Regions from separate parts of the Homo sapiens genome. Here region 2 is linked to region 1. The links come from fine-mapping of genetic effects on plasma protein levels. Region 1 holds a variant in brackets. A gene starts in the other region. All regions are shown on their forward strands.

Region 1 (5,376 bases):
CAGGCACCACCGACTTCCCAGGGCGCCCGGGCCCCCTGGTACAGCCCGGCTGCCCGCTGGAAGGCGCCTCGGGGCAGCAGAGAGCCTCAGCCCGGCTGCTGCTGTCGCTCAAAGGCGCCGGCGCCGGCCGCACCCGCATCGGGGTCCTTTTGCTCCCAGACCCCGGGCCCGAAAGGGCCGGAGCGTGTCCCCCGCCAGGGCGCAGGCCCCAGCCCCCCGCACCCCTATTGTCCAGCCAGCTGGAGCTCCGGCCAGATCCCGGGCTGCCGCCTCTGCTGCCTTCCCTGAGCGGGAGCGGAGCGCAGAGAAAAGTTCAAGCCTTGCCCACCCGGGCTGCAGCTGCTTGTTAACCCTCAGAGCGCCACGGCGCGAGGGAAGGGCACGCCAACCAGGAGAGGGGGCGAGGGAGATGCGGTCCGCCTGCAGTCACCTCTGCACCTCAGAGATTTCGGGAAGTTTGAGTGCAGGAAAGCAGCGCTCCGAGGCCAGGCCTGGGGTGCTGGCCGCTGCGGGGGGCACGCCCTGCGCTGCTCAGGGGCCTGTGGTTTCGGAGAGCACCCCGATCCAGTCCCCCATCGCCTCTCTGGCAGGCGTTGGGACTTGGAGTGAGCTGGCAGCCTGCAAGTGGGTGGATAAGAGCCAGGGCAGGGCAGGGCCGGGCAGAGTAAGGAGGGAAAGAGACAGGGAGTGCCTCAGGGTGCTAGGAATGAGTGTTGAGTTCCTGGCCGGGGTAGAGGCTCAGGTGAGAGTTTGCGGGTGAAAGGCAGGGGAAGGGAGTTGGGTTCCCAGGTAGGGACTGTCTGGGATGGGGAGACTGGTGCAGACTTCTAAGGGAGACCACTGTTAGAGCAATGTTGGGTTTAGACTTTGGAAATGGGCTAACATCTCAGAAATGCAGTGATGGGTGATAGTACCAGGGGAGATTCAAGTGCCCGGCTGCTGAGCCCGCTCCCAAGCTCCTGACTTCTTTCTTGGATATACAGTCCCGATTAAGGACTGCCCAGTTATAGCTCCTTTTCTACCAGGCTTTTCTGGTTGATTATCTTGGGGTCCCTACAGCCTTGAGTCTTGCCATGGATCCCAAGCCTGGCTGTGAACCAGTTTTCCAGATGTCCTGTACCCTAGAGACCCCAAGGCTGTATGTGTGTACATATACCCCAATTTAGCAAGGCGGTTTGGAGCATGCCTCAGACAGAAAGGATTCAGACAGATCCTTCCTGCCATCTGCTAGTGGTACCAACCCGGGCAAGTTGTTTAACCTCTTTGAGCTTCCAAGTTCTCCATTGTAAAATAATCTGCTGCCTTCCTAGGACTGCTGAGTGGATAGGATTGCATTCAACAGGATGTCCTATGCAATGCATGCCAGTCTGGGAGCTGTCGGTGTCTGAGAGCACTTACCATTGCCTTGTCCAGGACTTCACAGTCCTCTTTCTTTCTTGGCAGGTTTCAACCTCAGTTCATATTCCAGGGCTTGCCCAAAGTTATGCCTCCTTTAAAGCAAGACAGACCACGTGACAGGGCCCCAGGATCGATTTTTATGCACTAAGGGCTCTGCGCACGGTTCTTTTTGCAAATGAACTGGTGTGTCTCCTCACCCAGGGCCAGGCTGGCACAGGTGGGTTCTGAAGGCTCACTCTATTTATTTAGATGAAGGAAGCAGAGATTTTGCTGTGAATTGAAATGATTGCCCTGAGAGGCTTATTTCTATTTTCAATTGTTATGCATATCAGAGCAAATGTCCACATTAGGATAGTAATTGATATCCTGGTAGCAATAGTACCTCACAGAGAAATCATTTTGATGCAATCCAGTTAACCAGCAAGAAGTTCACGTGCAGAACTCTGTGTGCCATAGAAAAAAGTGGGGAAAGTCTTCGAGGCCTTGAGTCGACGAGCAAAAACACAACTTTCCTGAGGCAGAGAGAAAACAGAAGGGAAAAACAATGTAATAAAACAAATTAGTCACTCGGCCCTGGTGGTGTTCAGGCAAGCCTGTATGTTTTTTTCCACCACAGTTGTAAAGCATCGGGTCTGGCTTTGGAAGCCATCAATCTCTGTAAGCTTATTG[G/T]CTTGGTTGTTGTTTTAGGCATTTTGGTAGGAGGTGAGGAATTCTAAGCAACAATGACTGGAAGCTGGCACCGTTGAACAGTCACCTCTCCTATCCCCTGGGGTGTTTTGGGAAAGTCTGTCCCAGAAGTGGCTTCTGGAATTTGCCTATGATAAGTAATGACTGTGAAACAAATCAAGAAAGAAATGAGCAAGAAATTCCATGGTAAATGTGATTCCCCTCCCTATTTGGGTAGCACTTACAACTAACCAAAAGTTCTAACAATGAGTGAGTAATCCCCCAAGAATTAGGAATTTAGGGAGGGGTTCAGGCTTGGAGGACAGTCGCTTGGGAGTGACTGAAAATGTTCCATGGAATTCTGAGATTTCGCTATAAAGTGGGGAGTTCTCTCTAGGGGTCAGAGTCTTGATTTTCAGGATTTTCAATGAGAATCAGTGTCTTATAGTGCTCCTGCAAATTTGTGTGTTATGTTTTAAGAGCAGTGTTTATTTGCAGAACTTTTTGGATGAGGAAAAGGACACAGGGTTGAAGAGGGTGCTGCCCCCTCCCCCCCTAGGGTCAATACATGACAGCCTGTAAGATTTCCAGAGCACTAGGGAAATGGAATATGTAGTGAAAGGAGTCAGTGATAGAGTTCACCTGTCTGAATATTTTTTTTTAGCAAGTCCCAAAACAGGTTTAATAAACTGCAAAGCTGAGTATGTAATCTGGAATTTGTGTAATTCCACAGTCTATACTAAAAGCCCCAACAGTCATCTTAGCTGATCGCTCCTACTCTGCCTCCCTCCCTTCTCCCCTTTTCTATCTTTAGCCCTTGGGTTTTCCGTTAAGTAAAATCTGTTTACTTCCAGAAGTATCCTCTATGTGTTATAGTGAAATTGCCCAACAAACCAACATACTCAATAACTGCATTATCTAAAAGCATCAGCACTTGGATGTGTAAACTGAGCCTCAATCTGAAGTTCAATGTTTAGGTTAAAGTGTAGCTAGGTTCTTGAAAACATCCTTATTTCCTTCCAAAAATACAATTGCTTGGGGAGTCTAGTTAATTTATATTTAGTGGAATGTAGGAAAAGGACAAACTATGGATTTAATTTACACCTGAATGACAGTCATATCATCTACGTAGCCAACAGTGTTTCTGTGTGCGCGTCTGAGTGAGTGTGTACATCTCTGCATTTTGATCTTGTAATACCTGTTGAAAAATTTCTCCAGAAGAGGGCTCCATCCACAGCATTACAAAATTCTGAATCTACAGCTCATTTTAAAGAACTTCAATGCAGCAACTCCATCAAAACAAAACTATTCTCCTTATTCCACATTAATTGCCACAATCACCCCCAAATGAGAAATCCTGCCATTTTTCACTGTATTTATTTCTGTGTCTCTCTCTTTCTTGCTTTCCTTCTTTTGCTCTCTTGCTTTCTCGCTAGCTTTCTTCTTGCTTTCTTTCTTTTCCCCTATTGTAGTTGGTTCTGTTCTAATTCATTCTTTGACTCTGTATCCCCTCTGAGTATTGGAGCAGGGAAAATTTCAAAGATGTTTGTAGACGGTGCAATACGCAATGTGAGGAAGTTCTGAAATTTCCTGGCATTTGACTTTGGTTGGACTTGATTTCATTCTTTAGGTAGCCAAAAGGCAGGAACAGTTCTGCCTGTGGAAGGAGATAACCTTCCCCCTTACATAACCACCCAGAAGGGTGACTCCTGAGCTAGGTCCACTCACTTTCCATCACTCATTGAAAAGGAGAAGGAAATATCCCCCTGTCATCCAATTACAATAATCAGCTGGACAGAATCAAACCAAGTGACCAGTGGTTTTGGCATTGTTTCTATTTAGCTGTCAGCCAGGTACCCATGCACCTGTGAGAATCTGACCCTCCTGAAGGATGCTGCCAATATAATTCCCCACAGCCCGCTTCTTCTGCAGCCACCTGGGATCCCAGGCCTGGCTCCTCAGGTATGAACAGGCTGCACAGACAATGAATGGCTGGGCTGTAGGATCTCTTGCTCCTGCAGTAGGCACTCAGCAGTGGCCTTATTCTAGAGTTAGGGTGGAAAGTCATCTTTCTCTGCTGAGAGAGGCAGCTTGGGGGAAGGCAGGAGAGGAGAAGAAAGGACATTTCTAACTTGAAGTGCTGACTGAGCCAGGGTCTGTGGAGGTGAATGTGTCACCCTCTGGCTTAGCAAGTTGAACCTCGAGACATCTGCTTGGTGGTAATGGAACTCATCTATCCCAAACCTGCAACTCTGGCTTCTGGGCAGAGGTTGCCAAGTAGCAGCCACAGGCTAAATTTAGCCATGGATGCAGTTTGTTTGGCTCAAATGTTTTGCAAATTGTACATTAATAAAAAAGAAATCCAGGTTTCTAGCATTTCTGAAAAAGTCAGGTCAGGCAACCCTAGATCCACACTTCAACATGGCCGTACTTGACAGGGCTGAGTCACTACTGCCCTCTTTAGGCAGGACGTGCCTCCGTAGCTTGCCATAATCGTCACCACTCTCTACTACCCAGCCTTCTGTGCTCACTAATTTTGCCTGCTTGCCCCTAGGGCTTTTTGAGTTTGGGACCTCTGCTTTCACAAATGTTGAGGTTTGATCAAATTGATGCAGTTTATTTCTCAGTGATGGACTATTTGGAAAGGGAGGGACTGGCCTTTTCTCCTTCCCTGTGATTGAATTCCATTGATGTGTGCTTTGGAACAGCATGACCAAGGGGACTGCAGCCCCTCCCTGAGCACATTACTGGCAGTACTTTTGGACAGGCACCCAGAGAGACATAGCACCCAGATCATTGCTTCAGGTGTAAGAGTCATGCAGAGAAGTGACACGCTGCAGCTCTGAGTCAGTACGAGCCCTGGCACACCAGTGTGTTGGTACAAAATGTCATCACGCACCAGCAGCCAAGGGACTCTGAAACCCTGGGATCATATAGAGGCCTGCATACCCTCTCTGTCAGCAGTCCTCAACCATTTTGGTACCAGGGACCGGTTTCGTGGAAGACAATTTTTCCACGGACTAGAATTGGGGGGATGGTTTTGGGATGATTCAAGCACATTACATTTATTATGCATTTAATTTCTGTATTGTTACATTGTAATATATAATGAAATAATTCTACAACTCACTATAATTTAGAATTACTGGGAGCCCTGAGCTTGTTTTTCTGCCACTAGATGGTCCCATCTGGGGGTGATGGGAGACACTGACAGATCATCAGGCATTAGACTCTCATAAGGAGAAGGCGACCTAGATCCCATGCACGCACACAGTTCACACAGGATTCCAACTCCTATGAAAATCCAGTGCC
Region 2 (5,376 bases), not on the chromosome of region 1:
ATGTTCTCCTTTCTTGCCATTTCTAGGGGTTTGGGGATGGCGTACATTGCTGCAGGGCGTGCTCACTCTACCATCTTGCTCCAATCTTTATTTTTCAAAATACAGTGCTTATGCTTGGTTACTTCAGTTAAGATTATTTTTAAAAATCATAATTAAGCAAAAATATATGGCCATGCTTAAACATATTTAAGATAAATTAAGTGATTTGGCCTGTTTCAGTATCCCAACTCACATGCTAACAGGGGCTTGACCTGTAGCTACGGTACCCTGGAGGAAATGATCGCATTTATTTGGTTATTTCGGTCTAAGTAGTAATAGTTCTGTCCTGGGAAAAAGACTAGCCTCAAGGCATTTCTGATTGAATGTTTTTCAATTACAGTCTTTAAACCAGTATGCCACAGAACTGGCTCTTTCCACATGACGGCCTTTGTGGTGGGTGGCAGATTGCCCTGAGGCCTCGCAAAATGCTAGGCTTTCACAATGTCACTGACTGACAGCCAGGCCCAGCACAGTCTTGGTGTGATTGTGGGGCTAAAGTTATTCCACCTTGTGCAATAGCTACAGCTTTCTCTAACCAGCTGCATTCTTATAAAGTTAGAAGAAAATACTTTTTTTTTTTTGAGATGGATTCTCGCTCTGTTGCCCAGGCTGGAGTGCAATGGTGCGATCTCGGCTCGCTGCAACCTCCGCCTCCTGGGTTCAAACGATTCTCCTCCCTCAGACCCCCGAGTAGCTGGGATTGCAGGTGCCTGCCACCACGCCCGGCTAACTTTTTTGTATTTTTAGTGGAGACGGGGTTTCACCATCTTCGTCAGGCTGGTCTCAGACTCCTGACCTCAAGTGATCTGCCCGCCTCAGCCTCCCAAAATGCTGGGATTACAGGCATGAGCTACTGTGCCCGGCCAAAGAAAATACTTTTTATGCCAGCCCTGAAACTACCCTGAAGCACATACATCAACCTTGAGGCCTCACACTCCATCAAGAGGGGTGAAGGGCATGAGGAATTAGAAAGCATAGGGATTTTTAGTTAGACAGATCTGGTTCAAATCCTAGACTTGTGCCTTGAACAAATTATTTACCCTCATTGAACTCTAGATTCATTATTTGTAAAATGAAAGACAATAATAGTTATCTCCAAAGGAAAGTTGAATATGATCATTCATTTATTCATTAATTCAACATTTATTATTGCCTACTTTGTGCCAGGTTCTATTCTAGGAACTAAGGGATACAACTTTGAATAGGCAAAATCTCTGCTCTCCTGAAGTTTACTTTTTTTTTTTTTTTTGAGACAGAGTTTCACTCTTGTCACCCAGGCTAGAGCGCAATGGTGCTCTTGGCTCACTGCAACCTCCACCTCCTGGGTTCAAGTGATTCTCTTGTCTCAGCCTCCCAAGTAGCTGGGACTACAGGTATGTGCCACCACGCCCGGCTATTTCTGCATTTTTAGTAGAGATGGGGTTTCACCATGTTGGCCAGACTGGTCTCAAACTCCTGATCTCAGGTGATATGCCTGTCTTGGCCTTCCAAAGTACTGGGATTACAGGCCTGAGCCACTGCACCTGACCTGAAGTTTATGTTCTATTAAATAGCAACAGACAGTAACATAAACCAAAAATAAATAGGAAAACACCATAACAAAAATCAAACAGTGATATAATTGAGAGTTGCTTCTATTTCTTTTTGTTGTCTTCTTGGTTCAATCAGCCTGCTAAACTATATGGAACCTCATTTTCATGGGCCACTTATTTAAGCCGGGGGACCTTGGAAAGTCTCTCATGTCTCTCATCTCAACGGCCTAATGTGACTTCTCTTGAAATATTTGGACATTAGCAGGAAGCTGAGGCTTTACATCAGATCTTTACTTTAATGGTGGACTTGACTTTACTGGTAGATTTTTAGGCTCTGTGTGGACTGTGGAGATGATATCTGGGGGGCAGGCAGACACTTGCCCTGCCTCTGTCTGAGAAAATTCTGTTTTGGATGTCTTGTTGAAGTTGGTGCTGGCATCCTAAGCCCTTGCTGGGGTCGTAATTTAATTCATCAGAATGTGTGGCTTGCAAGAACCGGCTCAGATCCTGCCCTTCAAAAACAAAACATGAGCGTGCCAAGAAAGTCCAAGGTGTTGAATGTTGCCACTTCAAGCCTAAACTTTCTAGGAACACCTAAGTGGGTGGCAGCTTCCAGTTCTCCAGGCTGCTTCTAGGCCAGAGCTGGGTTCCACAAGAGACAGAATAGGCATATATATGCTTAAGGAACTGGAAAAACAGGCTCTCTCTCTCTCACAAACACACACACACACATACCAAGGTAGCTGTCAAAATGTTATCCGAAATTTTGGAACCAAAAAATCTTGAAAGATGGTATTCCAATATCACATTTTATGTAAGTTTTCTATTATATTAGATTCAAATTACGATTCGAGGCCACAAGCTTTAAGAATTCAGGGCCTTTTTAACTTGCCAAGCCCCACACCACTCCAGGAACTTCCCCACACCCCAGTTCTCAGAATTCATGTGCAAGGTCTTTCCTAAATCCAGGGTCCAGGTCAGAGAGTGGAGGATGTGCTCTATTTCTTACCTGATTGCAGACCCCTCTGACAGTGCTCCCTTCTGAAGCACTCACTGTCTGAACGTACACAGTCTCAGACTTAATCATGCACAGTGAGCAAGACTGTGGTGTGATAATTGGCGTCCCTGACTTATTAGGGCAAATCTATGGGAGGGGGAGACCTCCTGGACCACTGAGCAATTAATTCATTTACATTAGGAAGTTTCTCCGTCAGATGCAGGAAAAAAATCTTGTTTTCCTGCTGTGGTTTTGACTTTTGCCCCATCTTCTGTTGCTGTTGTAGGAGGCAAAATAAGGGTCAAGGCCTGGAAACACAAGTGCTTTGACTGAAGCTCCACTTGGCTTCCGAAGCCCAAGCTGGGTTGTACCAGGTTCCCTAGGGTGCAGGCTGTGGGCAACTGCCAGGGACATGTGCCTGCCCACCGGCCTCTGGCCCTCACTGAGTTGGCCAATGGGAAATGACAATTGTGAGGTGGGGACTGCCTGCCCCCGTGAGTACCAGGCTGTTGAGGCTGGGCCATCTCCTCCTCACTTCCATTCTGACTGCAGTCTGTGGTTCTGATTCCATACCAGAGGGTAAGAGCAATTCTGTGAAGTTCCAGGCTGGGTGGGGGATGCATGCATAGCCTCTGGCTGGGATCACCCAGGCTCTCCCGTCCGTAGTAGTGTGGGAGTGGATACAGGTGGATACTCTGGTCAGAGCAGCACTGGTGGAGGCAGATATGCACTGGGCTTCTTCCTCCGTTCTCCCACAGCCCCAAGAGAGAAAGGGTTATTTCAGACATTCCTTCTAAGATGCATGGAACCATTCTGAATTTTGCCCAGTTCGCTCTGTAGCAGGATACCTATTGAGAAAAAGTTAGGGTCAGTAAGGTGGAAGGGTCTGTCCACAGATGAAGTCCAATTCGATTAAGGGGGATAAGGGAATACATTGCCTCTTAGCTTGACCAGGTAGGGCAAAGGAAGAAGCATATATGAAGGCAGCTTCAGAAAAGTCAAGCTGAGCACTGACTTCAGACTGGAATTAGGAATCCAGCTCTGCCACTTTATTCTACTCAGCAAATATTTACTGAGCAAATTCTATGGGCTAGACAGTGGATTGGGTTCACAAGATACAATGAGTGTGACATGGTTGTTGTCTATGGATTTGGGGATATATGTAGGTATAGGGATATCTTACAAGGTAATCAAGAGGTTCTAATGAGGCCAGCCATGGTGGCTCACACCTGTAATCCCAGCAATTTGGGAGACCGAGGCGGGTGGATCACCTGAGGTCAGGAGTTCCAGACTAGCCTGACCAACATGGTGAAACCCCGCCTCTACCAAAAATACAAAAATTAGTTGGGCGTGATGGCAGGTGCCTGTAATCCCAGCTTCTCGGGAGGCTGAGGCAGGAGAATTGTCTGAACCTGGGAGGCAGAGGTTGCAGTGAGCCGAGATTGTTGCCACTGCATTCCAGCCTGGGTGACAGAGCGAGACTTTGTGTCAAAAAAAAAAAAAAAAGAAAGAAAAGAAAAAGAGGCTCTAATGAGATAAAATGAGAAAAGCCTGGCATATAGTGGCAACTTATGAAAAATTGTAATTAAAAAAAAACATTTTCTGACAGAAGAAACTGGATCTACCTGGTTTTTCTGAAGCCTAATCCTGCTCGCCCCAGTGAGTGCTGTTTCTGAGGCATCCTGGTTGTTTTGAGCTGTGGATGCTGAAGGTTAGAGTGGGAGGGATTTTAGAGGTTAGGTCTGCCCCTCTTGTGTTAGAGGACATGGATCCCTGGTCTGGAGAGGTTCTGGTTTTTGGATCAAGCCTCACAAGGGGTGGCACCAACTCACTCCTAGGAACTCCGCTAGAAGGAAGGCCAGCTCTGCCTAATTCGGTTGGGGAGATGGGGGTCCCTTTATGCTAGCAGAATATGTCCGAAGGAGCATGATGGTGTCAGCTTTGTTCATGAAGGCCAGTGGTACACAGGGAGCCCGGCAGCTTCCTCAGCAGTCCCTGCTGCCACTCTTCCTTAAGTCTTGAGGAGTCTTTTTTTGGCACAATCTCAGCTCACTGCAACCTCCGCCTCCCAGGTTCAAGCGATTCTCCTGCCTCAGTCTCCCAAGTAGCTGAGACTACAGGCATGCGCCACCACGCCCAGCTAATTTTTATATTTTTAGTAGAGATGGGGTTCACCATATTGGCCAGGATGGTCTCGATCTCTTGACCTCATATTCCACCTGCCTCGGCCTCCCAAAGTGCTGGTATTACAGGTGTGAGCCACTGCGCCTGGCCGAGGAGTCTTAAGCTGAGATCACAGCATTGCACTCCAGCCTGGGCAAAAAAAGCAAAACTCCATCTCAAAAAAAAAAAAAAAAAAATAGACACAAGACTGGCTCCTTGTCTTTTTTGGGGACAGGGTCTCACTCTATCACCCAGGCTGGAGTGCAGTGGTGCAATCACAGCTCACTGCAGCCTCGATTTCCCAGGCTCAAGTGACCCTCCCATCTTAGCCTCCTGAGTAGCTGGGACTACAGGTGTGTGCAACCATGCCTGGCTAATTTTTAAAAATTTTTTGTAGAGATGAGGTCTCACTATATTGGCTGGGGGGCCTCAAACTCCTGGGCTCAGCAGTCCTCCCACCTCAGCCTCCCAAAAGGCTGGGATTATATGCTTGCTCTTTTTAAGGTGGCTGTAGGGACAAACTTTCCACCTACTCCTTGTCAAGCCAGTGGACCGGTGGTCCCAGACATACGGCTAAAGTCAAGAGGTGATGTCTTTTGGAGAGATACTTTCAATCAGGAATTTCAATCAGAAATTCAATCATGT

Which allele goes with the higher level. Positions count from the first base shown, and alleles are read on the strand shown. Strength reflects both the effect of a copy and how common the allele is.
For the plasma level of the protein whose gene starts at base 3,108 in region 2, T is the low allele of the variant in region 1 and G is the other (moderate association).

The links. PIP is the posterior inclusion probability: the model's chance that the variant is causal. The UK Biobank Pharma Proteomics Project read protein levels with antibody pairs (Olink). The fine-mapping took linkage between variants from a reference panel, not from the people measured, so its PIPs are less certain.
Region 2: it holds the start of ADIPOQ, and the variant in region 1 is fine-mapped to the plasma level of the ADIPOQ protein (UK Biobank, PIP above 0.99).

The regions. Positions count from the first base shown.
Region 1 is chr16:82,627,616-82,632,991 of GRCh38, forward strand. The region is part of intron 1 of CDH13 (cadherin 13); the gene reads left to right. Among named protein-coding and RNA genes, the nearest start is that of CDH13, 3.3 kb to the left of the region's middle. RefSeq lists an enhancer at 1,439-2,638. The variant G/T (reference allele first, on the strand shown) is at 2,068.
Region 2 is chr3:186,839,603-186,844,978 of GRCh38, forward strand. ADIPOQ (adiponectin, C1Q and collagen domain containing) reads left to right here and starts at 3,108. Exons shown (of 3, transcript NM_004797.4): 1 at 3,108-3,147. RefSeq lists enhancers at 408-565, 3,148-5,376, a promoter at 2,432-3,130 and a cis regulatory region at 2,532-2,559.